3 linked regions of the Homo sapiens genome follow. The protein of the gene in region 1 interacts with the protein of each later gene in a pairwise test. Each region holds a gene or a part of one and is shown in the gene's direction. Other genes may lie near its edges. The genes, in order: PINX1, TLK1 and MFAP1.

What was found.
Region 2: the proteins of PINX1 (region 1) and TLK1 interact in binary tests that used the Homo sapiens proteins (3 or more experiments, as listed by UniProt).
Region 3: the proteins of PINX1 (region 1) and MFAP1 interact in binary tests that used the Homo sapiens proteins (3 or more experiments, as listed by UniProt).

What each region holds. Positions count from the first base shown.
Region 1 is NC_000008.11:10,836,876-10,844,756, reverse strand, and holds the start of PINX1 (PIN2/TERF1-interacting telomerase inhibitor 1), read left to right. Parts: upstream 1-4,881; 5' UTR 4,882-5,000; coding exon 5,001-5,019; intron 5,020-7,881. UniProt on the Homo sapiens protein: Microtubule-binding protein essential for faithful chromosome segregation. Mediates TRF1 and TERT accumulation in nucleolus and enhances TRF1 binding to telomeres. Inhibits telomerase activity. May inhibit cell proliferation and act as tumor suppressor.
Region 2 is NC_000002.12:171,043,295-171,055,701, reverse strand, and holds part of TLK1 (serine/threonine-protein kinase tousled-like 1), read left to right. Parts: intron 1-529; coding exon 530-619; intron 620-1,848; coding exon 1,849-1,941; intron 1,942-5,527; coding exon 5,528-5,638; intron 5,639-5,751; coding exon 5,752-5,888; intron 5,889-9,339; coding exon 9,340-9,528; intron 9,529-12,407. UniProt on the Homo sapiens protein: Rapidly and transiently inhibited by phosphorylation following the generation of DNA double-stranded breaks during S-phase. This is cell cycle checkpoint and ATM-pathway dependent and appears to regulate processes involved in chromatin assembly.
Region 3 is NC_000015.10:43,801,819-43,809,888, reverse strand, and holds the end of MFAP1 (microfibrillar-associated protein 1), read left to right. Parts: coding exon 1-134; intron 135-4,423; coding exon 4,424-4,513; intron 4,514-4,612; coding exon 4,613-4,795; 3' UTR 4,796-5,397; downstream 5,398-8,070. UniProt on the Homo sapiens protein: Involved in pre-mRNA splicing as a component of the spliceosome.

The sequences.
Region 1 (7,881 bases):
ATTTTTCTGCATCATGTCATTTCAGGTTTATCTGTCATCACTAAAGAAAAAAAAAAAACATTGATTCTGTAACTGCCTGATGGGTTTCTCTCGCAGGCTAACCAGATAGACCTGGTTTATCAAGACAGGGGAATTGCAATAGAAGGTTTAATACACATAGAGCTAGCTAAATGGGAGACTGGAGTTTTATTATTACTCAAATAAGCTGTCCCGAAAATTCAGAAACTGAAATTTTTATACAGTAGTTTGGCAGGCAGGAGGCTAGGGAATGGGGATTGCTGATTGGTTGGGTTGGAGACGAAATCATAGGTAGTCGAAGCTCTCCTCTTGCATGAGCCACTTCTTGGGTAGGGGCCACAAGACCAGACGAGCCACTTTACTGGCCTGGGTGGCTCCAGCGGATCCATCAGAATGCAGAATGTTATGGTCTATTATAAAACACCAATCTTAGGTTTTATAATAGTAATGTTATCTATAGGAGCAAATAGGTAGGTTAGCAGTCTTGTGGCCTCTGGCTGTATTATACCTGAGCCATGGTGGGGCTGTTTCAGGGAGGGGCTGTTATCATCCTTGTTTTAAAATTAAACTATTAACTAAATTCCTCCCAAAGTTAGTTCAGCCTACACCCAGGAATGAACAAGGGCAGCTTGGAGGTTAAAGGCAAGATGGAGTTGGTTAGGTCAGGTCTCTTTCATTGTCATAATTTTCTCACTGTTATAATTTTAGCAAAGGTGGTTTCAATTCAAAGGCAAAATTTGGTTTCTTGGCTTAAAACCTTTACAGTTCTAATTTGCCAGTTACAGACAGAATGATTCTACTTTTTAAATACTTGACTTTTGTAAGTACTCACAGCTAGTATACAAATTGTAGGTTATTTGAAATAGTCAGAGTATTAGCAATTTCTGCTTCCGGCCATGATGGAGTAAAGAAACTGGATTTACCCTTCCACCTTCACTACAAAGCTGGGAAAAATAGACAAAACAATGGTTTTGAGACATTGAGCAACAGGCAGTGAAAGACTGCAATCCTAACAATTTGGTAATAAAGGAGGTGAGCCCTTTGATAGCCCTCATTTCTGGCCTGAAGAGTTTCCAGGTTGCAGCATAGGGAGACGGAACTCAGACAGAACCTGGAGGTCTCACTGAGCTAAGGTGACAACAATCAAGGAAGCTAGGATTCTTGGGGCCGAGTGTCAGAGAGAAGAGAATTATACCAAGGGAAACTCCAGATATTTGCAGAAGCGTCCCCTCAAGTCTTCAAATGAAGATTGAGCAACACTTGCACTGGAGGAAACTACTGGGAAAGAACCACCAGAGACAAGAAGGCAGAAAAATCCCCAGAGCTCACACAGGGCCAAAAGCAACTTGCGTTTCCCCAGTGGAAATAATTTCTAAACACATGGAGCATCAAGCAGAGTCCTTGACAGGCTGCTGCTTTAACAATGGGACCAGATTATAACTAAACTTAAAGACTATTGTGGGCCCATCTAGCAAAACTTACACAAAAGGCTTGCAAAGGCCACATTTTCCCCAAAGGACTTAACTATCCCAGAACAAAATATTTGAAGGAATACAAAAGCCTTCAGCCCCCAATAAAGTAACACTCACAATGTCGGATGTAAAATAAAAAGGTTACCAGGTGTGAAAGATGCAGGAAAATATGACTCACATCAAGAAGAAAAATGTACCAAAAAAAAAAAAAAAAAGCATTAGGAAGATCAAACAACAACCCATAACCTTACCAACTAGATATGGTTTTCAGTGAAGAATTAGAGTATTACCTTTTAGACTTTAATTTAATATGTATTTTTTAATTACTGATATTAAATGAACTATGAATGATCAACTTGGTGTCCTAGAGATTTTTTCCCCTTTACGTATCTTGAGCACTTTCTCATGTGTATTTCACTTTTCTGCTTGTAAGAATCAACATTCACTTGGCTTACCTTATGTAATGGGAGGTATATTAGAAGTATGAAAAGGAAATAAGACTCTCAGCTAAATGAACCAAGGTAGGAAAAAAGACAAATAATCGGACCTCACAGGGAGTGAAGGACCAAGAGTGCAGCCAGGCTCTGCAAGCAAGTTCGCTGGGGCCCCAGGGCCTCTCCAGAGCCTCAGGAGAAGCTGTTAGTGAATGAGTGTTCCCTCTGATGCTCTGCCTTAGGGAGATCTAGCCCTTATTATCTCAGTCTTCCTTCTCTTCATACATCTTTTGGCTTCTTTTGTTGTACAGAATGGCTTCTGGCCTGGATCATTCAAATCCGTCCTACATGCCTGATTAGTGTTGCCTAGTCTAGAATTTCATATAAATGGAATCATATAGCATGTACTTCTTCCACTGAGCATCATGTTTTTGAAATTAATTCAGGGGCCAGCGAAATTTTTCTTAAAGGATCAGACAGTAAATATATTAGGTTTTGGGGGCCACACAGTCTCTCCCAACTGCTTAGTTCTGCTGGTGTGGCCAGAAAGCAGCCAAACAATAGATACATTAATGAGTGTTTATCTATTGTTTAGCTGCTTTCTGGCCACACTAGCAGAACTACGTACTTGGGAGAGCCAACTACCTGTGTAGAAAAAAAAAAAAAGAGAAACTACTTTACCCTTGAGTCCATTCATACCTTTGCTCATGTCATGGACTGTTATGCAAAGAAAGGTCTGTGGATCATTGGTATCCACATTTTTAGACCCTGTTATAAATGCAGAATCTGGCTCATGCCTGTAATCCTGAAACTTTGGGAGCTGAGGTGGGAGGATCACTTTAGCCCAGGAATTTGAGACCAGCCTGGGAAACATAGGGATATCCTGTCTCTACAAAAAATAAAAATAAAAAAATTTAGCTGGATGTTGTGGCACATGCCCGTAGTCATAGCTACCTAGGACACTCAGGTGGGAGGACTGCTTAAGTCAGAGAGGCAGAGGCTGCAGTAAGCCATGGTCACACTATTATGCTCCAGCACGGACAACATAGTGAGGCCCTGTCTCAAAAAAAAAAAAAAAAGGCAGAATCTCAGACTCACCCTAGGCCTGCTGAACCAGATGTGCATTTTAACATGATCTCTGGGTGACTGGCGTGCACAGTCATGTCTGTGAAGTATTGCCCAAGGGAGTCTGCTGAGACACTGAAGGACAAGATGGAATGGGTTACATTGGATCACCTTCTTTTAACAAGTGCAATTTCCACTCCAGCTGGCCAGTTAAAATACAAACAAGATTCTGTAATTTTTTTTAAATCCCAAACTTAATAATATTCTTTTTCAGTAGATGATCTCCATTAATATTTCATAGCCATATAGAATGCTGGGGTTGAAACAAAATAGGAAACCATCCTGCATTCACCAAAAGGCAGAGTCCCTTCTACAATATTCCTCTGTGGCCTCTAACTGAGCGTTTCCAGGAGACACCTCATTGTAACAGAAGATCCAACGATAACTAACCATTTACCACCTGAACCATGGCAACAGGCCATAAATGTCTGCTTCGATCTTCTTGACCATCTTAGAGACAAAATTACCTTTCTGAAATCATATACCAACACAGGAGGTGCTTGAAAAACTCTGATTTCCGACTAATTCAGTATTCTCCATTCTATATAACTACCTTCCACTCTCTCTGGCATAATCCAATAGATCTGCTAATTATCCTAAGATTTTTGTGATCCTGCCTTCCTGAGTCCAGTGCCCTACTTTTAACCTTGTTCCCTATGTCACAATGTCACAGCTTTCCTGCCTTGGCTGGGAAAATTCCATTCACTTGCCTCCCCTCACCCCCTCAGTATTCACTGATAGCTATAAGCATCCTTTTGTGTTTCTTCTAACTTTTATGAAACTAGGGTTTACCTTTTTCATCCAGATTCCTAGTTAAAGGGAGAATTTCATTGTAAACAAGAATCTAGTCCTTCAATTGCTTTTCTTGGCACCTGAGTGGTGCTCTTTTTACCTTCCTTTTATGTAGGAAAGGCTTCTGTGTGCACTGTCACCTGAAGTTTACTGGAGAGTCACTCACCCAAAAACATGTCTTTACCATACTTAAAAGTGTTATAGCTAAGAGCTTATTAGAACTCCCCTGGAGACAGGGATACTTGAATTAAATTTTGCAAACATCTATGGAGCCTTACCATACTCACATTATTTTGCGAGGTGCTGGTACGAATACAGAAATGGATATAATAAAGGCAACCTTCCAGTGTGTGCACTGTGGTGGAGAAAATAAATAAAACCTTTGCCTTGTTGAAGGCATCCCATTATTTAAAGAGGTAACATTTTCCCCACAACTATTTTGTGTGGGGTCCCACAAAAAAACCGATAGATAGCAGACCTATCTTCTGATATCTATCTACTATCTATCTATCATCTATCTATCTATCTATTTATCTATCATCCATTTGTTTATCTATCTCAGAAAGCAGAGGTAGGGTACGAGGAAGAGATGGGACATTACAATGCAAAGTCCTCCCCTCCAGCCAAGTTTTTCAAACTCCTTGTCCATACAACATCCATGACCCTAAGTTCAGCTCTTTACACATTTCTTTTCCCCGTGAGGCTGAGCTGCTTGAGGGCAGGTCACGTCTTTCCACTACCCTTCTTGCCGGCACCTAGGGCTTCCTGATGGAGACCCTACAGGTAATCCACGTGAGCTTATGCTCCGCGGCAGACACGCCCAGGCGGGCTTTACTCACATCAATAGCTTAGTACGCACACTCCCTCTAGCCAATGAGCGAATACGTACTCCTTTCTCCACCTCCCGCAGGGCGGCCACCGCCCCCTCAGTCCCTCTTTCTCCCGTCACCTCCCCAGGTTGCCCCGCCCTGCTCCGCCCCCTCGCCGCCGCGTGCTCGAGGAGCGAGTCGCGCGCTACTGACGTCACCAGCACGCGCCCCGTCCGCTGCAGTCCGCCGGCGAGGGAGTTACGCACGTCCTGATTCTCCTGGAGTCTCCAGCCCGCCCAGTGGCCGCAGTCACCCAGGTCCAGAGGCGGCGGTATCACAGGCTCTCCGACATGTCTATGCTGGCTGAACGTGAGTGTCGGAAGCGGAGGCCCGACCCAGGCGCGTTGGTGAAGATGCCGGGTGACGCGCACGGCAGCCCGGAGTGGCTGGGAGCTCGGGTTGCCGGCGCGCCTGGCGCATGGGATCGGGGGACCGGGGAGCCGAGCCCGGCTCTGATTGTCCTGCTCGCCGCAGAGCTCCCCGAAAGTTGGCCGCAGGTCTGCTAGTGAGAGAGACCGCAAGTGTCTCCCGGAGACGCCGTTCTCAGAATCACCCTGGGTCGCGTGCGAAGTGGGTCAGAACACCGGGTCCCGGGACTGGCCCCGCCGCCGCCCTTTGTGGGGTCCCGGACTGGTTGCTTCACCCACCCCGGACCTCAGCTTCCTGAGGTTAAAAAGAGAAGGTTGAGCAGAAGGATCACTTGAAACTGTAATCACATTGTCCAAGATGTCTTGGACCCAGAAAAAGAAAAAGCAAAGGAGTTAGAAGTCTCAAATATGGGACGTCAGCCACTTAGCGAGGGAGTGCAGGGCTAATGTGTAATTCTAAGTGAGACTGGCGTTTTTGACCTTGTTAGTTGGCCACAGCGCCCCGTCCTGCCTGTTTACCTTTGACATTTATCTTCACTTGGTGGAGTCGGTGAAACCCCTGTCTCTGTAGAGGCTGCTGAACTTCTGAATTGTACCTGTAGCGAAGGTCGCTTGCCGCCAGATGGCAGTCATGCTTTGATCCTGAAAAGCGGGTCCTGCTTGGCGAGTTGTACAGTGAGCAAAGAACAGAAACAGCTTATTTAACAGATCAAGCAGACCAGCACAGGGATTTTGTGAAATAAGTGCTGTTAGCACTCTCTTTTCTAAGAGGGTGGAGGACTTAGGAGCACAAAACGAAATGGGTCAGGCACCATCCCGATTTTACAGGGGCAGAAATTGACGTTCAAAGGAAAATAATTTGCCCCTAGTCATTGAGGTAGAAAATGGCAAAATTGATCCAGTTATCTCTGTATCTTTATGTTCTTGCCAGTAAGACCAGCGGAGACCCATAGAAATGAGTATGTTTTAGACTGAACCCGTCGGTTCTATTTTTTCACCAGTAAAAAATGAGGAGTCAGGGTTAGAGCCTAGATAGCTAAGATCTCTTCTGGTTTTCGTATTCTTTGATGTTTGCTTAATTCAGCATGCACTTGGCGACTTTGGCCCTAGTTCTGCTATTCATTTATGTCTGTTCCTTTGATCAGTGTTTGTGAGGCCACAAAATCTTCTCTTAATATTTTTATCCCTAGGTGGCCTTAAATCAGTGAGATGGTGAACATGAACATAGTTTGAAAAGTCTGAAGTATAGAGGTGTAAAATGCTATTTGTAGGCATCAGTAATTCAGATTACATGATTTCAAGAGAGTGTTTTCAGTTCTCCTCTTCCCAACGTTATTCCAAATTGTCAAATCCTTGTCATTATAATATGTAATATTTTTGTGTTTTCTTTTTCGTAATTTGCTAAATGGGTATAGCATCTTCTGTAATTAGATACTTAGGATTGGTGTTGTTAAGAAGAAAAACCTTAGACAAATTATACAGAGTTTGATTGAGCAAAGAATGATTCAAGAATTGGGCAGCCTTCAGAACTAGAACCGGTTCTAAGAACTCCAACCTGCTATGTGGTCAGGCAGTATTTATGGACAGTAAACGGAAGTGAGGTACAGCGACAACTTGGTTAGGGTTACCGCTCTGATTTGCCTTATTTGAATCAGATGGCTGCCTGTGATTGAAGCCTAGCTGCTGTAATGGATTGAGGCTCACTTATATGTTATAAGAGTATACTCCTACGGTAGGCTTTCGCTTCCTTTAAGTTCTAACGTAGGTTGCAGTTCCTTATGTAAGGACTCAAGTACGGAGGCCTCCTCAGGCCAAATTTAATTTAGTGTAACAATACTCTCCTTCTGATCAACCTCTGAATTTTGAGAGATTGTTTAAAACTTCTGCCTCTGGCTCTTGGGACTCAACACGCCCTTTAGAGTAAATGGGATCCTAGCATAAGTCATGTGGTATTGAGCTGTTGTGTGGATGGTTTTTATTGGATTTGCCCCAAAAGTATCCCGACAGACCCATTTACAGTTAGATCTCCACATAGGAGTACCTGCTAGAGGATGGTTAAATACTTCCCAAATAGTGATTCTGCAGATTCAGGGCATTCTACCTGAGGCCCAGCGCCATGCTGTAAACACTGCTGTTCCAGATCGTGTCAAGGGTCCCCAAGATCATCCCCAGATTCAATGATGTGCTGGGGGATTCAGGCACAGGACTCAGCATATAGTCGCACTCACTGCTAAGATTTATTACAGCAAAAGGATGTAGAGCAAAGCCGGCAAAAGGAAAAGATGCACGGGGCAAAGTCCAGGCTAAGCCAGGCGTCAAGCTTCCAGAGCCCTCCCCCAGGGAGTCACACATAACACGCTTAATTCCTCCAGTAGTGAGTTCTGAGAGCAAATATGGAATGTTGCCCACCAGGGAAGCTAGTGAGAGACTCGGTGCTAGGGATTTCCTGGGGCCTGGTCACATAGACACCCTCTACCTGGGAGGCACCAAAATTCCTGGCTCGCAGAAGGAAAGCAGGTGCTCAGCATAAACTGTATCATTTGCATAAACAGGCACAATGAGCCACTCTTACCAGTTCTGCGAATGGTGGGAACCCTTGAGTTCCCTGTTATGAACAGGCCTTTCAAAGGATAGCAGTCAGGCCTTCTGTGTTAGTGAACAAAGCTGAGATCTGAGCACAGAACAGACTGTGGCATGAGAATTACAAAGGACATGTAAAAGGTGATCCAATTGGAACAGCTCAGAGGCAGTCTTTTCCTTACCATGATTTTCCACACCTGGAAACTTGGGTGCCATTAGAGCT
Region 2 (12,407 bases), on another chromosome or scaffold:
CATAAGATTCAACAGTAACTAAGAGTTGTAGTGATAGCGCTGATACAATGTTATAATCTGCTTTCAGTGAGTGTCTTTTTGAACTAGTGACCAGATAAACTATGAAATTCATTGATAAATTGATATTAAACTACATATGGGCGTGTATTATTGTCCCTAGTAAGTTTGTTTTTTCAACTATCATAATCATTGTTTAATATTTTTCAGAATAATTTATTTGGCCTTATTTTTTTTTTAACTGTATGAAAGCATTAAGATTTCTTTTATGGCACTAGAATGTAAGCTCTATGAGGGCAGGGAATATATTGTTGTATTTCTCACTGGGTCTTATGTAGGAGGTACTTAATGAACACTTGTTGAATAAATGGTGATTAAAGGTTTTAAAAGTCAATTATGTTTCAATTTAGGTATTATTCTGATAGAAACTTCTTCAGAAATGTTAAGTAATTGTTGCTAATTAGAAATCTGTTTTGTTTTGTGTTTTTTTTTTTTTTTTTTGCTAATATAAAAATTTTAATAATTTCTTTAGGTTCGACCGAATAGCCCTTCTCCTACTGCATTAGCATTTGGGGACCACCCTATTGTACAACCAAAGCAATTATCCTTTAAAATTATTCAGGTAAATGATAATTAAAATGTTTTTTTCTATGGCTTCTAAGAAACCATTGACTAACTTACTAACAACTAAGATGTCTGTTTGTTTTATATGTAGTCATAAAGCAGAATTACACATCAAGAAAGATAACTTACTAAACAAAAACAACAGAATTTGTAGGAAGGAGTGAGAAACTGAAACACACAATTTACTATCAGCTTTTTAAACAACCGTTAACATGTCAGTTCTGTTTACTGATTCTTTCTGAACTTAATTTCCAAGTATATGTAATTGATATTTTGTGAAACTGCTGTATTTTTTAGAAGTGGACATTAAAGCCTCTCATTTGACTGTATTTATTAAATACGTATATGTGACAAATTATAAACATTATTTGAATTATTTGTATATTTTCTATACTTATTTAGTTTCATGAATTTGAGCACTAAGTTTTTCATTTTAATTTTTTACATGTGACAGTTTCTGAGTGGCACTTTCTCAGACTGGGGTTTGGGAGAGTAGATCTTACTCTTCAAGCTCAGCTTGACAGTTTATTTCTATTAGACTGTATTTGTGAGGTCATATCCAAACTGTTGTGCATGTATCAAAACCTCTTTCTTTGGATGATCCTGAGGCTAGGATTAGAAGTACATTCCTTTCAGCCACTGAGTAGATCATGAAAGGTTTTGCTGCATGAGATGTTGGTCAAAGGACATAAAATTTTAGTTGGAAAGTAAGTTCAAGGGAACTATTATACATCATAGGGGCTACAGTTAAAAACAATATTTTGTGTATATGAAAATTGCTAAGAGAGTAGATTTTATTCACACCACAAAAAAAAGATATGTGTTAAATAACTTGATTTAGCCATTCCACATTGTATATACATATATCAAAACATCGTGTTGTGTACCATAAATAGATAGGTTTTTACTTATCAATTTAAAAAAGGTCTTGCAAAATTCAAAAAAATCAACTAGAGGAACGTATAGCACAAAGCAGCGGATATATTGAATTATAATGAGGAACATCAGTATTCTAAGTAATTGGCCTTTCTAGATGTTTCTTGGTAAGTCTGTAGCATTTATACACTTGAAGTTATTAAAACTGCACTAAAACTTTTTGAGATTCACTTTACATATACACACAAATATATTTTTCTTTACCTTTTGAATTTGGAGTAAAATCTAGTTTTATGTTTGCTTGAAACAACATATATAATGGAGATAATAAAATAACTTTTTTTCATTTAGACTGATCTCACAATGCTGAAATTAGCAGCATTAGAAAGTAATAAAATCCAGGACCTGGAAAAGAAGGAGGGACGTATAGATGATTTGCTCAGGGTAAGTAATGAGTCATAGAGGGGAAAAAAATTGAATAAATTATTTGGCAACAGTCAAACTGTTCAGAAAATACTTAGCATTGTAAAAAAATCTGTAGCTAGGCCAGGCGCAGTGGCTCATGCCTGTAATCCCAGCACTTTGGGAGGTCGAGGCGGGCAGATCACAAGGTTGAGAGATCAAGAGCATCCTGGCCAACATGGTGAAACCCCGTTTCTACTAAAAATACAAAAATTGGCTGGGCATGGTGGTGCGTGCCTGTAGTGCCAGCTACTTGGGAGGCTGAGGCAGCAGAAATGCTTGAACCCGGGAGGTGGAGATTGCAGTGAGCTGAGATCACGTCACTGTACTCCAGCCTGGCGACAGAGTGAGACTCTGTCTCAGAAAAAAAAAAAATTCTGTAGCTAGAACTCAATAAGCTTTTTCTGTTAGTTTAAGTACATGATTGAAAAATACCAATTTTAAAGTGAAATATTTTATTAGATCTTCAATAAATTGGGAATTGAGAAACTGTTGGAGAACTGGAAGTTAATAACATTTATATGACCAACTACCATAACACAAATAGCCATTTCATGTTAAAGTTTATTGATTTTATTATATGCCTGACATCTGATACCTATACGATGAAGTAACTGCTGCAGTTCTGTAGGATTTTTAATGGAAGCTTTATTTAAAAATACATCTAGAAGTATACTTAAGAATGTAAGGGTTTAAAGCAGCAGTTCTTACCCCTTGATGCTCCTTAGACTCACCAGTTGGGAAGGGTGAAAGTACTAATGCCTGAAACTCTACCCTGAGGGGTTCTGATCAAGTTGATGATGATGTAGGTCTTGGACATTGGTAGTTTTAAAGGCTCTCCCAGATAACTTTAATTTAAGACAGCATTGAGAACTACTGGTGTAGAAACTCGATAAAACCAACACCTGTGATCCTACTGTATTTGACAGTGTCTTTAAAACATCCAGTGTGTCTTTTTCCTGATCCTGTCATATTTACTTTCTCACACCCATTTACCATTTAACCACTATTTTAAATTTTGTATTTGTGATGCCTTGGTGTTTCTTTATGGTTGTATTAAATATGTGCTTACATTCTTCACAACATATTATTTCAGTTGGTTTTTGAACGTTAAGTGAAATTTTCCAGTATGGACCCTTTTGCCCAGCTTGTTTTCAATGAAATATATCAGAGAGTCATCCACTTTGATGAGTATAACTGTAGTTTGTTCATTTCATTGCAATATTGTAAGGTGTTACAAGTATACCATAATTTCTGTATCTTTTCTGCTTTTAGTTGACATTTTATTTCTACTTTTTCTAGTATAAACAGTTCTAAGAACATTCTTTGTACATGTCTTCAGGGCACATATGAAAGAATTTTTCTGTGGTATATGTTTAGGAAAGACATAGCCAGAGTACAGGGCATACGCATTTTCCATTTTACTGTATAATACCAGTTATTTCTCAAGGTTTTTTGGTCTGGTCTTTTTTTTCCCCCGCTAAGTGACAGGGTCTCACTGTGTCGCCCAGGCTAGAGCACAGTGGGGGATCATAGCTCACTGTAGCCTCAAACTCCCGGGTTTAAGCAATATTTCTACCTCAGGCTCCCAAGTAGCTAGGACTACAGGCTCATGCCATCACTCCGGGCTGATTTTTTTTTATTTTGTAGAGCTGGGAGTCTACAGGCTGGTATTGAACTCCTGGCCTCAAGTGATCCTCCCACCTTGGTCTCCCAAAGTGCTGGGGCTATAGGCATGAGCCACCATGCCCAGCTGATCTTTCAATATAAATTATTAGTCTTACTGAAATTGGTTTTGGGTATGGCATGATGTAGGGTTTCATTTCAATTTCTTTCTATATGGATAACCAGTTGTTCATCCCCATTTAATTAAAAGCTCATTCTTATACTGCCAGCTCTATCATCATAAAATCTTGTTTCCAGTATACAGGTGGATCTGTTTCTGTGTTCTGTATCATGTTTCCTTGTTCTGTTTGTGTCTCTACACAAGTACTGCAGCATCTTTTTATCATTGTTGATAAAACAATTTTTATCAGTTGTTTTTGGCTGTTAGTAACAGTGAACATAAATAACAGTACTTCAGATGAGATAGAAGCTTATTTTTCAAGAGAAGAACAGAAGTGGGCAGCTCAGATATTATTACTCCTCAGTATCATAAGGGACCTTGTCATTGTTAGTTCATGGCTTATATCTCAAAGGTCACATCAAGGTTCAATATATCTATTAGGGTCACAATTATATCTGTGTTCTAAGCAGATAACAGGAGGGAGGATGGGAGCAGAGAACACAAAGCACAATTCTGTGTGCAGCCTTCTTGGATATCTCATTGAACAACTTCTGCTTGCATCTCATTAACCATCCTTCGCTCTAAGGGAAGCTGGGAACTGTAGTCATTTGGCTAGGCAGATAGCAATCCAGGATAAAACATTGAATTTCCATTATTAAGGAAGGAGGAGGCTTGGGTGATCATAGTTATGTAGCTTTATGTTAAGTCATGATACATGGTTAAACAGATATCCTCTTCTTCTTTTTGGCTATTTTTGGCCCTTCACAGTCTTAGAGAAATTTTAGAATCAGGTTTCAAGTTGCATATGCATCATACACACACAGTGTTGAGATTTTGTTTGAATTGCTGAGGGTCTATTGGTGCTAAATTCTGTTTCCTCTTCCTTGAAAAACAACTGTGTTGGGTATCTAATTTTAGGTTGGCAATTCTTTTCTCTCAGCACTTTTAAGATTTTGTGCCCTTGTCTTGTGGATTCCACCATGGTTGGCCTAGACTTTTGATTCTCAAAGTGTGATCTTCAGACCAGGAGCATCAGTATTACTGGAGAACTTATTAGAAACGGAAATTTTCAGGTCCTTCCTGAGACCTGATTCAGAAGCTCTGGGAATGGTTCCCAGTAATCTGTTGTAACAAGCCCTATAGGTTATTCTCTTGCCACTGTACTAATCAGACTCATCTTTTGATGTTAGAAGGAAGCCTCTTCTCTGAGCATATGGCCACCTACAAAGTGAACAGAATTAGTATCCTATTGCTAAGGAAGAATGGTGAGGACAGTTGTTGGGTAGGCAACTTGTGTATGTCATTTATAAGTTCAGTGGAGAAAATATTTTGTTAGTTATAAGAGATAGAGGAAAACCCACATTTAATTTGTTAATTATAAGAGATAGAGGAAAACTCACATTTATTTTTAAGTGATAGACACTTTATATACCATATTTTAGTTATTTTTAACAAAGTGAGGTAGATTGTGTTGCTTCTATTTAGAAATAAGAAAGCTGAACTAAAGTTCTTATAACTTAGCCAAAGTTAACCTTAGAGTATGGATTTGAATGTATGGATATGGATACAAATTTCCCTGTATGTACTTTCCACTACACACTTAAGTAACATTTAACAGTATTATCTCATGGTTAAGTAGGCTTTTTTTTTTTCTCGTATCATACTCAGATATTTAATATTATTAGTCCTATCTGTATATAATTTATTTAGAACATTAAAACTATTTCTAAGCTTTTCATATTCCCCAGTCTAGACCTCTTGCATTTTCTACTTATGTCATAGGCTAACTGTGATCTCAGACGGCAAATAGATGAACAACAAAAATTACTTGAAAAATACAAAGAACGATTAAATAAGTGCATATCAATGAGCAAGAAACTTCTTATTGAAAAGGTAGGCTAAAAGTTGAGTAAATTTTCGCTTTCCCTTCATTAGCCCCTTTTGCTTTGTATGCTTTTATAAATTAATGAATACAATTGAGTGATGATTTTTTTTCTCCTTTTCAGAGTACACAAGAAAAGCTGTCAAGCAGAGAGAAGAGTATGCAAGATCGATTACGCCTCGGGCACTTTACAACAGTTAGACATGGCGCTTCATTTACTGAACAATGGACAGATGGTTTTGCATTTCAGAATCTTGTGAAGTTAGTCATTCTTAACATTTAAAAGTTTTTAGTATTCGTTTGGGTTTTCATTACTTTAAAAGATTATAGATTTGTAATTATGCTCTCCAGTTCCTCGCTACTCTGAAATCATAGAATTTAGTACCTTTGAAAGGGATATGAAACCAAGAGTATTACAGTTTTAGCTTAGTAATTTCTTGATTAATTAGCAGTCATCTATAGAATGTAATATATTATTCTAATTCTGACTTTCCGAGATATTAATTGAACCTTTAGCTTTACAGATGATGTTTTGAGAGGGAAATTGTTGAAAATTTAATTTTCACTGGAAGATTTGTGTGTGTGTTTATTTCCTAGGATTTTCCTACTTAGTTTTTTCCCATTCCCCAATCCTTACATGTTAATGTTCAGCACTTGCCTGCTCTCTATTCCTAAGGGAAAAAACTTCTCTTTTGCCTCAGATATAATAACTGATTTATCAGTTAAACTGAACATGTGGCTTTAGCGTTTCTGAGGTAAACTCTATTTATTATTTATTTATTTTAATTTCAACTTTTATTTTAGTTTCAGGGAATATATATGCAGGTTGTTACAGGGGTATATTGCTTGATACTGAGGTTCGGGGTACAATTGAACCCACCACTCAGGTAGTGAGCATAGTACCCAGTAGTTTTTCAATCCTTGCCCCTGTCTCTGCCTCCTTCATCTTTGTAGCCCCCAGTTTCTATCATTCTCATCTTTATGTCCATGTGTCTCCAATGTTTAGCTCCCACTTATACATGAGAACATGCGGTGTTTGGTTTTCTGTTACTTTTCAGATCAAACTTTTAAACAGAGGAATTATAGTTACCATATTTTCTTGAGTTCAGATGGTGGTAGAAAAGGATTTATTGGCTGTTTATGTGTTAAGGAGTGCTAAATATGCTACTCCGTTTTTGGTGGAAAATTTTTTTAAACCTGAAAATGGGGAGTAATGCCAGCATGAACATCAGCTTTTCCAGAGTATCCAGTTATTTGAAATAGAGGCAGAACTTACTTTCACATGGTATCACACCAACATTGCTGTTCAAACACTGCCTCCTAGGACTTGCCACAGAATGGCCTTCTCTCTCAGCAGATTTATTCAACTTTTCTTCAACATATCTGTGCTAGTTATACCACAGTGAAACAAAGGATAATGTCCTTGTGATATTAGAGAGTTTGGGTTTCAATTCTGCAGATAATGGGACTTGTTAAAGGTTTACATATAGTGTACGTGATCGGAATGATATCTACAGTGATAGTTGTAGAATAATAACTGATGGTAATGTGAAAATATTATTAGAGGATGAATGTTATTGGTAGTTAAGATGGAGGGGTATCCAGATGAAAGGTGATTAAAGCATGAACTAACATATCAACAGTAAAGTGGAAAGCAGGAGAAGATAATTTTTTAGTGTTTATGAGCAAGAGGCTCTGCTACTAAACCCAGACCGGCAATTGTCCTGCAATGAATAAAAGAGACAGTTATATAATTAATATGAATGTTCTGAAATATAAATTCTACTAGTAGTTCCAATTTCTCCTCTTAACTGTCAGAAAAGAGGCCACAGGTGCAGTGGCTCACGCCTGTAATCCCAGCACTTTGGGAGGCCGAGTTGGGAGGATCACCTGAGGTTGAGAGTTTGATACCAACCTGGCCAGCAGGGTGAAACCCTGTCTCTACTGAAAATACAAAAATTAGCCAGGCATGGTGGTGGGCGCCTGTAATCCCAGCTACTCGGGAGGCTGAGGCACGAGAATTGCTTGAACCTGGGAGGTGGAGGCTGCAGTGAGCCGAGATCATGCCACTGCACTCCAGCCTGGGCGACAGAGTGAGAGTCTGTCTCAAAAAATAATGTCAAAAAAGAAAATAATTACTTGTATGTCCTGACTTTCACTAATAAGCATTTATTGAGGACCTACTGTGTGTATATCAAGCCGTTTATAATTGGTGATATAATCCAGAGTGGTTAGAAGATGAGAAGAGAAATAAATAAAAGTAATAATATTAATCTCTAAACTGTATAGTCATCCCTGAGTAATCAGCTATTAATATCTATTCCAGTAATTCTTTACTTTCCATTAATATTTTAATCATTAGGATTATTATTGCTTATTTGCATTTATACCATCTTGATTGTGCCCTAAAATAGCCTTAAGATTTACTTATTAAAAATTGAAATTTATTCCTGCTTCTAAATGAAAACCGGATTAAAGTCTTGTTCTCACTTTGCTATTCTTGAGATTTTTCTCTACCCTTTCAATCTTCTACCTAGATTCTTCTTGATTTTTTTCACTCCTATCATATTCTGCTACTTTATCACTAAAACCATAGGGAAGGGGATGTGTGTAAGGTCAATTCTGCATTAGCAAAGTAGGAGCCCTTTAGTTGATGTCAGTGGTTGGGGAGAGGAGGGCATGAAATATTTGACTTGCTCTAAGTATTGTAACCATGTAGGATTTGAAAATTTTTTATTGGCATAGTGAGGTGACCTGAAAGAGAACATGGTTACTGTTAGAATAAGCTTAAGGTGTTGTATGATAAGTTGGTTTTAAAAAGCTTCACTGTTAACTACTTTATGCTCTGCTCAAACTGCTAAAATATCTAATCTACATTTTAATAATAGACATGGTATCTATTCGTTTTTAGAATTAGGGAGCTATTTGCAAAATTGTTTCAGTTTCTTGAATGGGAAGCATTGATTTTATTTTTGTTACTTTCCCATTTTTCAGAGCCATGCTAATTTTTCTTGCTATTTTCTTGTCTTTTTCCCCTTAAATTATCAAAAAAATTTTTCTCATAAATTTCTTATATTAAGGTTAATTTGTCTCATTTCAAAACACCAACTTCCCATTACCAATTTTTTTTAACAAAAGTAGATTTAGAAAATAACTCTCTTCACATTAAATTCATATTTGCCTTTTGTAAATTTGTTTGCAAATACTGTGGTGAGATGCATGTGTAACATATACCCCATACTTTAATAGTTTGGGGTATTGTTTTATCTCATTTCATTCAAGAAACATTTACTGAGCAAAGGTAAGTGATGATCACTACACTAGGTACTAGGGATACAACAGTATAAATACTGTATAAATAGACACCATCTGTGTTCTTAGGGAGTGATGTCATCTAACCGGACACTTTCTGATAAAGTATCTATAGGAATAATATTTATTAGAAAGAGTGAGGTGGGGAGATAGAAGATCCCATGAAATTATATATGGCAACACATCTTTCCCTAATCTAGGGGTTTAGAGAATACCTCACTTAAAAAAATTCTTTCAAATGAGACCTGAAGGATAAGTACAAATTGGTTCACAAGAGTGGAACCAAAAGGTTACGAATGTATATTTTATGGTTTTTCATGTTTTTTATGCATTTTTTCCAAGTTTAGCCTTGAAAAGTAATGGAAGGTTAATATGGTTTTATTTGTTTATTTTTACACAGGCAACAAGAATGGGTGAATCAGCAAAGGGAAGATATTGAAAGGCAAAGGAAACTTCTAGCCAAACGCAAACCTCCCACAGCTAATAATTCTCAGGCACCCTCTACCAATTCTGAACCAAAACAAAGGAAAAACAAAGCAGTCAATGGAGCAGAGAATGATCCCTTTGTTAGACCAAATTTACCACAACTGTAAGCCTCCATTTAAAATTTTTCTTTTTTAAAATTGTTGCCAGTGAGCGTGAATGTTACTAATGGATGTTATTTATAATTAATACTTAGATAGCAAAAATGATTAAGACCAGGAAGGAAGGCAGTATTGAAAATTTAGCTCTAAATTAATAGCCCCAAATATCTGAATTCTACCGTTTTAAGCAGAGATTTAACAATTCTCTTTTAAAACAGAGACCTAGGTAGCTAAGAGGTTACCAGAATTCACCCTTCTGTGTCTGAATCAGTTAGGAATCAATTAAAAGTTTTGGATTATTCTAATTCAACGTTTCCATTCACATTCCTTTGTCTGAGAGAATGAAGTAATGTAACTACCATTTATATGTTTTCTCAGCCTGTGAAAGCAGTTCATTAGTGGGTTATAGGTATTGTTTTTCCCTTTCTGCTTTTCTTTGTTTTCTGGATTTTCTTTGTTAATGAATTATTCTTTATAATTTAAAGGACAAAGACATTTTTTAAAAGAAAATTTGGAAAATAGGACAAGAATAATAATATAGACCATGATCCCATTTCACAGAGAACACCATTGTTAAAATTTCAATATACAGATGTATCCAAACTTACATAAATTTTCTGTTCTAGAAGAACTTACGTAAACTCACGTGAGTAGAAAATACATAGACCGGGCACGGTGGCTCATGCCTGTAATCCCAGCACTTTGGGAGGCCAAAGTGGGTGGATCACGTGAGGTCAGTAAATTCTCAGAGAGAAACCCCGTCTCTACTGAAAATACAAAAATTAGCCGGGCATGGTGTCAGGCACTTGTAATTCCGGCTACGCAGGAGGCTGAGGCAGGAGAATTGCTTGAACTTGAGAGGCGGAGGTTGCAGTGAGCCAAGATCGTGCCATTGCACTTTAGCCTGGGGGACAAGAGTGAGACTTTCTCAAAAAAAAAAAAAAAAAAAAGAGAAAATACATGTACCCTCTAATGTCTTGTATGTCATGTATTCTTTTCTCCTCTATTGAAAGATTGTCTGTCATCCATGCTTTGAATCCCATCCACACCTGTATCAGGAACCTCTTCTGTTGATACCTCCTTTGTGCTCTGCTTGTTACTTCCCTTCCAAAAACATGTAAGCAAAACCATTAAAAAACTCTCCCTCAATTACAAATCCCTTTAGTCTCTATATTCTGTATGTTCTCTTCATAACTAGGCTTCTTCAAAGAGTTGCCTGTCCTCGTAGTCTCTTCTGCCTTGTCTTCCAGTTGCCCTTTCTTAACTGAAATTTTTCTTAAGATTATCTTCCTGATGCTAAATGCTGTAACATTTGGGTCTTTAACTTACGTAGCAGCACTGAATATTGTTGACTTATTTTTTTCCAAAAAGACTATTTTAGTTTTGAAGATACTGAAGTTTCCATTTTAACTCATCCGGCTGCATCTTCTCAGTCTCTTTCTATGGGCATCATTTACTTACCAATCTGTAAAATGTAGATGACTTTTAGGGATATGTCCTAGGCCGTCACATTTCTCACTCTGCGTATTCTCCTTGAGTAGTATCTACTCTTAGGGTTTCGGTTACCGTATACATCCTGCTGACATCAAAATTACCATCTCCAGCCCACTTTTCTCTTGAGTATCGGATACTTCTGTCTCAGTCTTGAATATCACATCCTGCTTAGTTGCTATCAGTACTTAAATGTCTCACAGGAACTTCTAATGCAGCCTGTTCAAAACTATATTTACTAAAAACAAATAAAACCTTGTATTTACTGTTATCTTTCCGATTCAGTCTGTCTTTACACACACATACTTTGCCCCTTTTCTGTGTTCTCTTAGTGAGTGGCACTACCATCCTCTCACATGTAAGAATTCTAGTTGTCACCTTTAACATTTTAAGTACAGATTTTATTTATTTTTATTTTTTATTGTTTTGAAGAGATGGAGTCTCCCCATGTTGTCCAGGCTTGTCTTGAACTCCTGGGCTCAAGCTGTACTCTTTGCCTTGGTTTCCCAAAGTGCTGGGATCACAGGCATGAGCCACTGCACCCGGCCAGATTTTGTTGATTTTTTCTTAATCCATTAGTAATTAGATGGTGATAGTATTAATCTTTCAAAGTCCATCTCAAAATGTACTTTCTTCTTAAAGCCTTTCTTAATTTTCTTGAGCTGTTGTAAGTTACAATTAAAACATTTTGACTATATTAATTTTTTAAAAGAACTGTACTTTTTGTAAGTTAGTAAATTTGTTTAAGAAAAAACCAAAAGCCAGGTGAATGACTGGCTTGGTGGGTGATTGTATTAAAAGAAAGTGTGGGCTGGGTGGGATGTCTCACACTATAATCCCAGTGCTTTGGAAGGCTGCGGTGGGAGGATCACTTGAGTCCAGGAGTTTGAGACCAGCCTGGCCAACATAGTGAGACCTTGTCTCTATTTCTTTAAAAGAAAAAAAAAGCAAAGTATGTGTTAGCTTTAACTCTACCCTGTAGATGCCCAGTCCTGCTAGATACCAGATATGTCCACTCATCCTTTATGCAAGTTCCCGCTAACACCATTCATTCTAACTCAAGTTAATGCTGTCTTTTACTTGGGTGATGTTTATAATCTCTCCCTCTTCCCGCTTCAATTTTGGTCTCTTCCTGCAGTCTGTTTTCATGTCGTAGAGTCATTTTTCTGAAATAAAAATGTGATCCTTTCATTCTCTTCCCTATAACCCTAACAAAGCTCTCCAGTACTTGAATGATCTAACCCAAAAGTCCTAATATGGCTTATAAAGCACTTTTGATCTGGCTCCTTCTTCGTTATCTAGCCTCATTGTTGCCATCACTCAGTACTTCTACTTCACTGCCAACATTCAGACTCTCACCCATTGTCTTAATTTCTGTTAATCTGTTAAGTCC
Region 3 (8,070 bases), on another chromosome or scaffold:
AACGCATGCGAAACCTGACTGAGGAAGAGAGGAGAGCTGAACTTCGGGCAAACGGCAAAGTCATTACCAACAAAGCTGTTAAGGGCAAATACAAGTTCTTACAGAAGTATTATCACCGGGGTGCCTTCTTCATGGTAAGAAGTGAAAAGAGAGTCAGAAAATTGGGCAGTAGGAATAACTCAGAAACTTTGAATTATTTTTCTCTTCAAGAATATTCTGGAATGTAATTTCCACTTGCCAGTGGTCAGCTTTCTCATTTGCTTTTTCCTTCTGAACAATATAAACTCAGAGAAAAGCATCAGCAATTGGATGACAGAAGTAGCATCAACTGTTCTCTCTTTTGGCCCCAACTCTCAAAAATAGGAAATGATGTAATAGACTTTTTTTTTTTTTTTAAGAGACAGAGTCTCGCTGTCACCCAGGCTGGGGTACGGTGGTGCGATTATAGTTCACTGCAACCTTGACGTCCTGCGCTTTACACCTGCTTCAGCCTCCAGAGTAGCTGGGACTACAGGCATGCAACAACCATGCCTGGCTTTTTTTTTTTTTTTGGTTATTTTTTTTTTAATTTTTCGTAAAGACCAGGTTTCACTATGTTGCCCAGGCTGGTGTTGACCTTCTGGCCTCAAGCAATCCTCCCACCTCAGCCTCCCAAAGTATTAGGAATACAGGCATGAGCCATCATCCCCAGCCTTAGATAAATTGAGGAAATGAAATAGAGAAGTGATCTGTACAGATAGTGGACTAATTAGGTCCTCCACATGACATAGTTGTCATTCTTTCATAGCTGAATGAGAAGTTTTGGTTATGTGAAAACCAAACTCTGCAAATAGCTTTACATTAATTCACTTTTGGGTGGCAGAAAGTTAGTTCACTTCATTCTGAACTGACAGTACCCAAGAGTAACTAACCAAAAAAAATGGTTTATTATCTAACCATTAGATGGAATGCCGTCATCTTTGTTTTTCATATAAAGACTAAGATCAAAATAGCAATCTGTTAACCCTGTATGGTTTATTTCCTAATGTTAAAGCAGTTTGCACCAAAAACTAGACTAGCTTTTTCAAGTGCCGTGTGGCAAATTCTAAATATCCCCACTGCAACTAAATTCCTGCCTTTCACTGCAGATGCTGTTAAAACTTCAGTGGCGGCTTCCCTGCCACCCTCCAAAATCAGTTTCAGGTCTATCTGATTAGCAGGAAGTGTTTACTTAGGTAGTTTTCCAGCAGATGTAGCTTACTATTCAGTGGAGATTATGAACTACTTCTTGTACTGCTTCGGTCATAAAGTTTGTTTGCTTAAGCAGTTCGCAGCTTTAATAATCAAGTTTCTTAGAGAAGCAGTTCATTGCTAGTTAAGATACATAAGAAAAGTGTATGTGAAAGTCCTTTGGTGGGCCAGGTACATTGGCTAATGCCTGTAATCTTAACATTTTGGGAGGCAAGGCCAGCAGATCAGTTGAGCCCAGGAGTTCAGCCCGGGCAACATGGCAAAACCCCATCTCTACAAAAAATACAAAAATTAGGCGTGGTGGTCCGTGCCTGTAGTGTCACCTATCAAGGGGCTGAGGTGGAAGGATTGCTTCAGCCCGAGAGGTTGAGGCTGCAGTCAGCCGTGATCGTGCCACTGCACTGCAGCCTGGGTGGCTGACCAAGACTTTGTCTCAAAATAAATTGTTTTTAAAAAGTCTTTCTTAAACAAGATAGTGCTATTTTTAATTCCTTCAGCATATGTGTTTATAAATATGTATCACAGCATTGTAATATTATCACTCAGGCTAGAGTGCAGTGGTGCAGTCATGGCTCACTGCTGCCTCATTCTCCTGGGCTCAAGCAGTCCTCCTGCCTCAGCCTCCTGAGTAATTGGGACTACAGGTGTGTGCCACCACACCTAATTTCTATTTTGTAGAGATGGGTTTTGCTATGTAGCCCAGGCTGGTCTCAAACTCCTGGGCTCAAACTCTCCTTCCACCTTGGCCTCCCAAAGTGCTGGGATTACAGGCAAGAGCAACTGCATCCAGCCTTACTAATGTTGTTTATTTCATTGAGTAAGTAAGCTTTAGTGCATATACTATGCAAAGGTCACTGTTTAGCACTGTTAGCGAGAATACATAATCACTATAACATAAGTAAAAGTAAAGTACTGTAGGGGTTCTGACGAGAGAGATGTTATATTTGGTAGAAGATTGAAAGGGTTGACGTAAAGGTTGTAACATTTAAGCATTTAAGATGTATAATTTTGGGCCGGGCGCGGTGGCTCACGCCTGTAATCCCAGCACTTTGGGAGGCCAAGGCAGGCGGATCATGAGGTCAGGAGATTGAGACCATCCTGGCTAACATGGTGAAAACCCATCTCTACTAAAAATACAAAAAATTAGCTAGGCGTGGTGGCGGGCGCCTGTAGTCACAGCTACTTGGGAGGCTGAGGCAGGAGAATGGCGTGAACCTGGGAGGCGGAACTTGCAGTGAGCCGAGATCACGCCACTGCACTCTAGCCTGGGCGACAGAGTGAGACTGTATCAAAAAAAAAAAAATTAAATATATAATTTTTTTTTTTGTCACCTAGGCTTGAGTGCAGTGGTGCGATCTTGGCTCACTGCAACCTCCGCCTCCCGGGTTCAAGCAATTCTCCTGCCCCAGTCCCCCAAGTAGCTGGGAATACAGGCGTGTACCACCACGCCCAACTAGTTTTTGTATTTTTAGTAGAGACGGGGTTTCTCCATGTTGGCCAGGCTGGTCTTGAACTCCTGACCTTAGGCGATGTGCCCACCTCAGTATCCCAAAGTGCTGGGATTACAGGCGTGAGCTACTATGCCCGGCCAAGATGTATAGACTTTTTGACATTCGGTGCTGGGAAGACATTCCAGGTGGAGACCAGCAGGAGTGGAGGCAGAAAGCATCAGCTGTGAAGGGAAGCGGCAAAGAGAACTGAAAAGGTGGATTAAGGCTGTATAATATTTGGCCTTGATTACTACACAGAGGAGTTGTATTCATTTATTTATTTATTTATTTATTTTTGAGATGGAATCTCGCTCTGTCACCCAGGCTGGAGTGCAGTGGTGCGATCTCAGCTCACTGCAACCTCCACCTCCTGAGTTCAAGTGATTCTCCTGCCTTGGCCTCCTGTGTAGCTGAGATTACAGGTGCGCGCCACCAGGCCTAGTGTTTTTTGTATTTTTAGTAGAGACAGAGTTTCACCATGTTGGTCAGGTGGGTCTTGAACTCGTGACCTCGTGATCCGCCCGCCTTGGCCTCCCAAAGTGCTGGGATTACGGGCGTGAGCCACTGCGCCCAGCCTAGGTGTTGTATTCATTTAATAGACAACCATTGAAGTTTTTGAGCAAGGCAAAGATTATAATGAGTTACAGTCTAGAAACATCAGTGCCATGACAGTATGTGAGACTGATAGTAGAGGAAAACTAATAACCCAGGTGGTAAGAGTTTGTAAGATGTGGCAACTGATTGAATGCACACAGAGGTTACTCAGTTTTGAATCTAGGTAATCGAAGAGTACGCTGGTCCTACTAACAGAAAAGTTAAAGAGAAGAGGTTGATATGGAAAGGTTAGGTATTAATAAATGGTTTTCACTTTAGACGTGCATTTCAAGTCCCAATAAAATATCCAACTTATGATATATGAAAGCCAGTAAAAAATCCAGGATTGCAGATTTGAGAGGCCTATGCAGAGTTGAAGTCACATGAGTAAACAAACACATTGAGTGCAGAGAATAAGCCAACCTTCAAGACACGTCTACACTCAAGGAGAAAATTAGGCATAGTTGCATGCACCTGTAGTCCCAGCCACTCAGGAGGCTGAGGTGAGAGCATCGTTTGATCCTGGGAGGTCAAGGCTTCAGTGAGCAGTAGTGACCCCACTGCACTCCAGCCTGGACATCAGGACATCAGAATGAGACGCTGTCTCAGGGAAAAAAAAAAAAAAAAAGGAGAAATACAACAAAGGAAAAAGAATATCATCTCGGCCGGGCGCAGTGGTTCACACCTGTAATCCCAGCACTTTGGGAGGCCAAGGTGGGCAGATCGCAAGGTCGGGATATCGAGACCATCTGGGCTAACACGGTGAAACTCCGTCTCTATTAAAAATACAAAAAATTAGCCGAGTGTGGTGGCATGCACCTGTAGCCTCAGCTACTCGGGAGGCTGAGGCAGGAGAACTGCTTGAACCTGGGAGACGGAGGTTGCAGTGAGCCAAGATCGCGGCAGTGCACTCCAGCCTGGGCAACAGAGCGAGAGTCCGTCTCAGAAAAAAAAAAAAGAATGTCATCTCTTCAACTAGATGTAAGCTCTTGAAGAAAGGCTCAATACCCTCTGCTTTCTCTGTATCCCTTATTGTAGAGTTTAATAAATTTGTGGTTTGAATATATAGGAAATAAAGCCACAAGATTGATAAGATTTTTTTTATACAGGATGAGGATGAAGAAGTATACAAGAGAGATTTCAGCGCTCCTACCCTGGAGGATCATTTCAATAAAACCATTCTTCCTAAAGTCATGCAGGTATGGGGAACCTTAATAACATGACAGAGAAAAGTGATGTATTGATAGCTGAGGCATGGTTTGTTTGGTGGTATAACTCATCATCCATCCTTCCCTCAGGTCAAGAACTTTGGACGCTCAGGTCGCACCAAATACACTCACCTTGTGGATCAAGATACCACCTCCTTTGACTCAGCTTGGGGCCAAGAGAGTGCCCAGAACACAAAGTTCTTCAAACAAAAGGCAGCTGGGGTACGAGATGTATTTGAGCGGCCATCTGCCAAGAAGCGGAAAACTACCTAGGGTCCAACTGCTTATTCTTCCAACTGTGGAACACAAGGGGAGTCTCAGCATCTGGTCCTTGATTTGGTTTTTTCATTGTTTCCTTGGCCCCTGTATCCAGATATTGGACTTACTGCTATACTTGTGATACTGGGTAGCCCAGACTTTGAAGGTGCTTTGTGAGGTTTGGACTCATGCTGAGAAACCCACAGGAAAGCACTGTCCAGGTAGGATTAGAGGCTTCCCACTTAAAACTATTTCTGAGAAATCTTAGGTTTTATCACTGCTATGGTTTCCCATATTTACTTGGGACTGTTCTGACTTTCTTTTTCCAGCCCTTAGCTTGGGTTAGAAAAGTGGACATGTAAGTGAACAATGCATTACTTCTACCTTAGGTTTAGGAGTAATATACCCGGAAATCTAAGCTCATGGAAACATGTTTTCCATTTTTGCTTGGAGTCCGTTTTTCTAGTTGTACATACTTTTTGATCCATATATGTGTGCATGTCAAGAAATAAAAGAATCACACAACAAGGAGATTTTTAGCATGATACTGGAAATAAAATGTCCAAGCTGACAAGTATTAATTGCCTATTAAAGTAAAAGATAACAATTGTCAGGCAGAAGGTGTTTCACATTTTGATAATTCCCTTTGATCTCAGAAACAAGCTCAGGTACTAGCTTGGCTTTAGGTAGCATCTGGATTTATTCCATGACCAAATACAGATGTTTTTGAGAAGACCAAGGTCTTCTCACATCCTTTAAATGTCCCACTGGAAGAATCAAATAGTTTAGTGTCGTACGATAAAAATGAATGCAAATAATTACTATGAGGTGGTAAATACATAAAGATGAACACAGGTACAAGTCACTGTTGTGTGGGATACAATCTAAGAATTATCCTAGAGTCAGAATGAGGGTAAGGCCTTGAAACTCTTGGAGAAATGTCTGTAATTGCCATTTGAGTGTCCTTACAGCAGACTCAGGGGCCGTTGCAGGGTTTTTTTTTTGTTTGTTTGTTTGTTTTAAAGAGACGGCTCTGTTGCCCAGGCTAGAGTGCCTCAGCCTCCCGAGTAGCTGGGACTACAGGCGCCTGCCACCATGCCTGGCTAATTTTTGTATTTTTAGTAGAGACGGGGTTTCACCATGTTAGCCAGGATGGTCTTGATCTTCACTTCGCGATCCGCCCGCCTCAGCCTCCCAAAGTGCTGAGATTACAGGCGTTGAGCCACTGTGCCTAGCTGGGGCCGTCACAGTTTTATAGTTGAGGAAACTAGTTCAACATGTGTGAGTTGGTCCAAGCTGATTTTTTTTTTTTTTTTTTTTGAGATGGAGTTTCACTCTTGTTGCCCAGTCTGGAGTGCAGTGGCGCGATCTCTGCTCACTGCAACCTCCTGGGTTCAAGAGATTCTCCTGCCTCAGCCTCCCTAGTAGCTGGAATTACAGGCGTCCACCACCACACCCAGCTAATTTTTTTTTGTACTTTTAGTAGAGATGGGGTTTCACCATTTTGGCCAGGCTCGTCTCAAACTCCTGATCCCAGGTGATCCACCTGCCTCGGCCTCCCAGAGTGCTGGGATTATAGGCATGCGCCACCACGCCCGGCCCTGATTAACCTTTAAAGTAAAATTACCTTCTCTCTAGGATAGGAAATGGCATGTAGAATGTATTATGGCTTAGAATTTGAATACCAATCAAAACCTTTCATAGGTTTTTTTCGTTTTGAGACAGTCTTGCTCTGTCGCCCAGGCTGGAGTGCAGTAGCACAATCTCAGCTCACTGCAGCCTCAACCTCCCAGGCTCAAGCAAATCCATCTCAGCCTCCAGAGTATCTGGGACCACAGACAGGCACATGCCACCATGCCTGGCTTTTTTTTTTTTTAATTTTAGTAGAGACAAGGTCATGCTATGTTGCCCAGGCTGGTCTGGAAATCCTGACCTGACACAGTCCTCCCAGCCCAGCCTCCCCAAAGTGCTGGGGTTACAGGCATGAGTCACCACACCTGGCCCAACCTTTGATATCTTCTAGTCTTACCATGTTCTAACCCTCAGGTACCTAAATTCTTTTTTTGGTGGTGGGGGGAGCGCGGTAGAGACGAAATCTCACTGTGTTGCCCAAGCTGGTCTCAAACTGCTGGGCTCAAGTGATCGTCTTGCCTCAGCTTCCCAAGGTGTTGGGATTACAGGCATGAGCCACCATGCCTGGCCCCTAAATTCTTTTTTGTTGTTTTGTTTTTGAGACAGTCTCGCTCTGTCACCCAGGCTGGAGTACAGTGGCACAATCTCAGCTCACTGCAACTTCCGCCTCCCTGGTTCAAGCAATTCTTCTGCTTCAGCCTCCTGAGTAGCTGGGACTACAGGCATGCACCACCACGCCTGGCTAATTTTATTTTTTTTGTATTTTTAGTAGAGACAGGGTTTCACCATGTTGGCCAGGCTTGTCTTCAACTCCTGACCTCATGATCCGACTGCCTCAGCCTCCCAAAGTGCTGGGATTACAGGTGTGAGCCACTGTGCCCGGGCTTTTTTTTTTTTTTTTTTTTTTGAGATGGAGTTTCACTCTTTCCCCCAGGCTGGAGTACAGTAGTACAGTAGTGTGATCTCAGCTCACTGCAACCTCTGCTTTCCAATTTCAAGCGATTCCTGCCTCAGCCTCCAGAATAGCTGGGATTATAGGCGCCCACCACCATGCCCAGCTAATTTTTCTATTTTCAGTGGAGACGGGGTTTCACATGTTGGCCAGGCTGGTCTTGAATTCCTGACCTCGTGATCTACCTGCCTCGACCTCCCAAAGTGCTGGGATTAGAGGTGTGAGCCACAGCACCCAGCCAAATTATTTTTTTTTAATCACTCAAAATCAAGCATGTTGTAGGTACCAAAATTCTAACTCAAGGTGGCCTATGAACTGGGTTCATAACCTACATCTATCTATATATATAGTGGCTCCTAGGCAGGTAGCTGGCCTTTTAGATATTCATAAGCTGTCTTGGAGACACATGCCATTTGAGTACAGTAACTCTGCTGAGACTCCAGATGTACCTTGAATACTGTTGAGAGCTAGTCAGATGAATGAGACTGGCCTGCCACCTAGCATCTGCACATGAGGTATTCTTCTACACTGATTTTTCATACAGGTGTGCTAGATTTTAATGGGTCACTTAAATTCAGTTAGTCTCCAACATATAAATTCTCCACAACATAGGATATAGTATACACTCTACTTGACCCAAGATGATAAAACTGAAAAAGACAAAAAAAAATTTTATTGCCATAAATTAATCCAGTAGGTATATTTG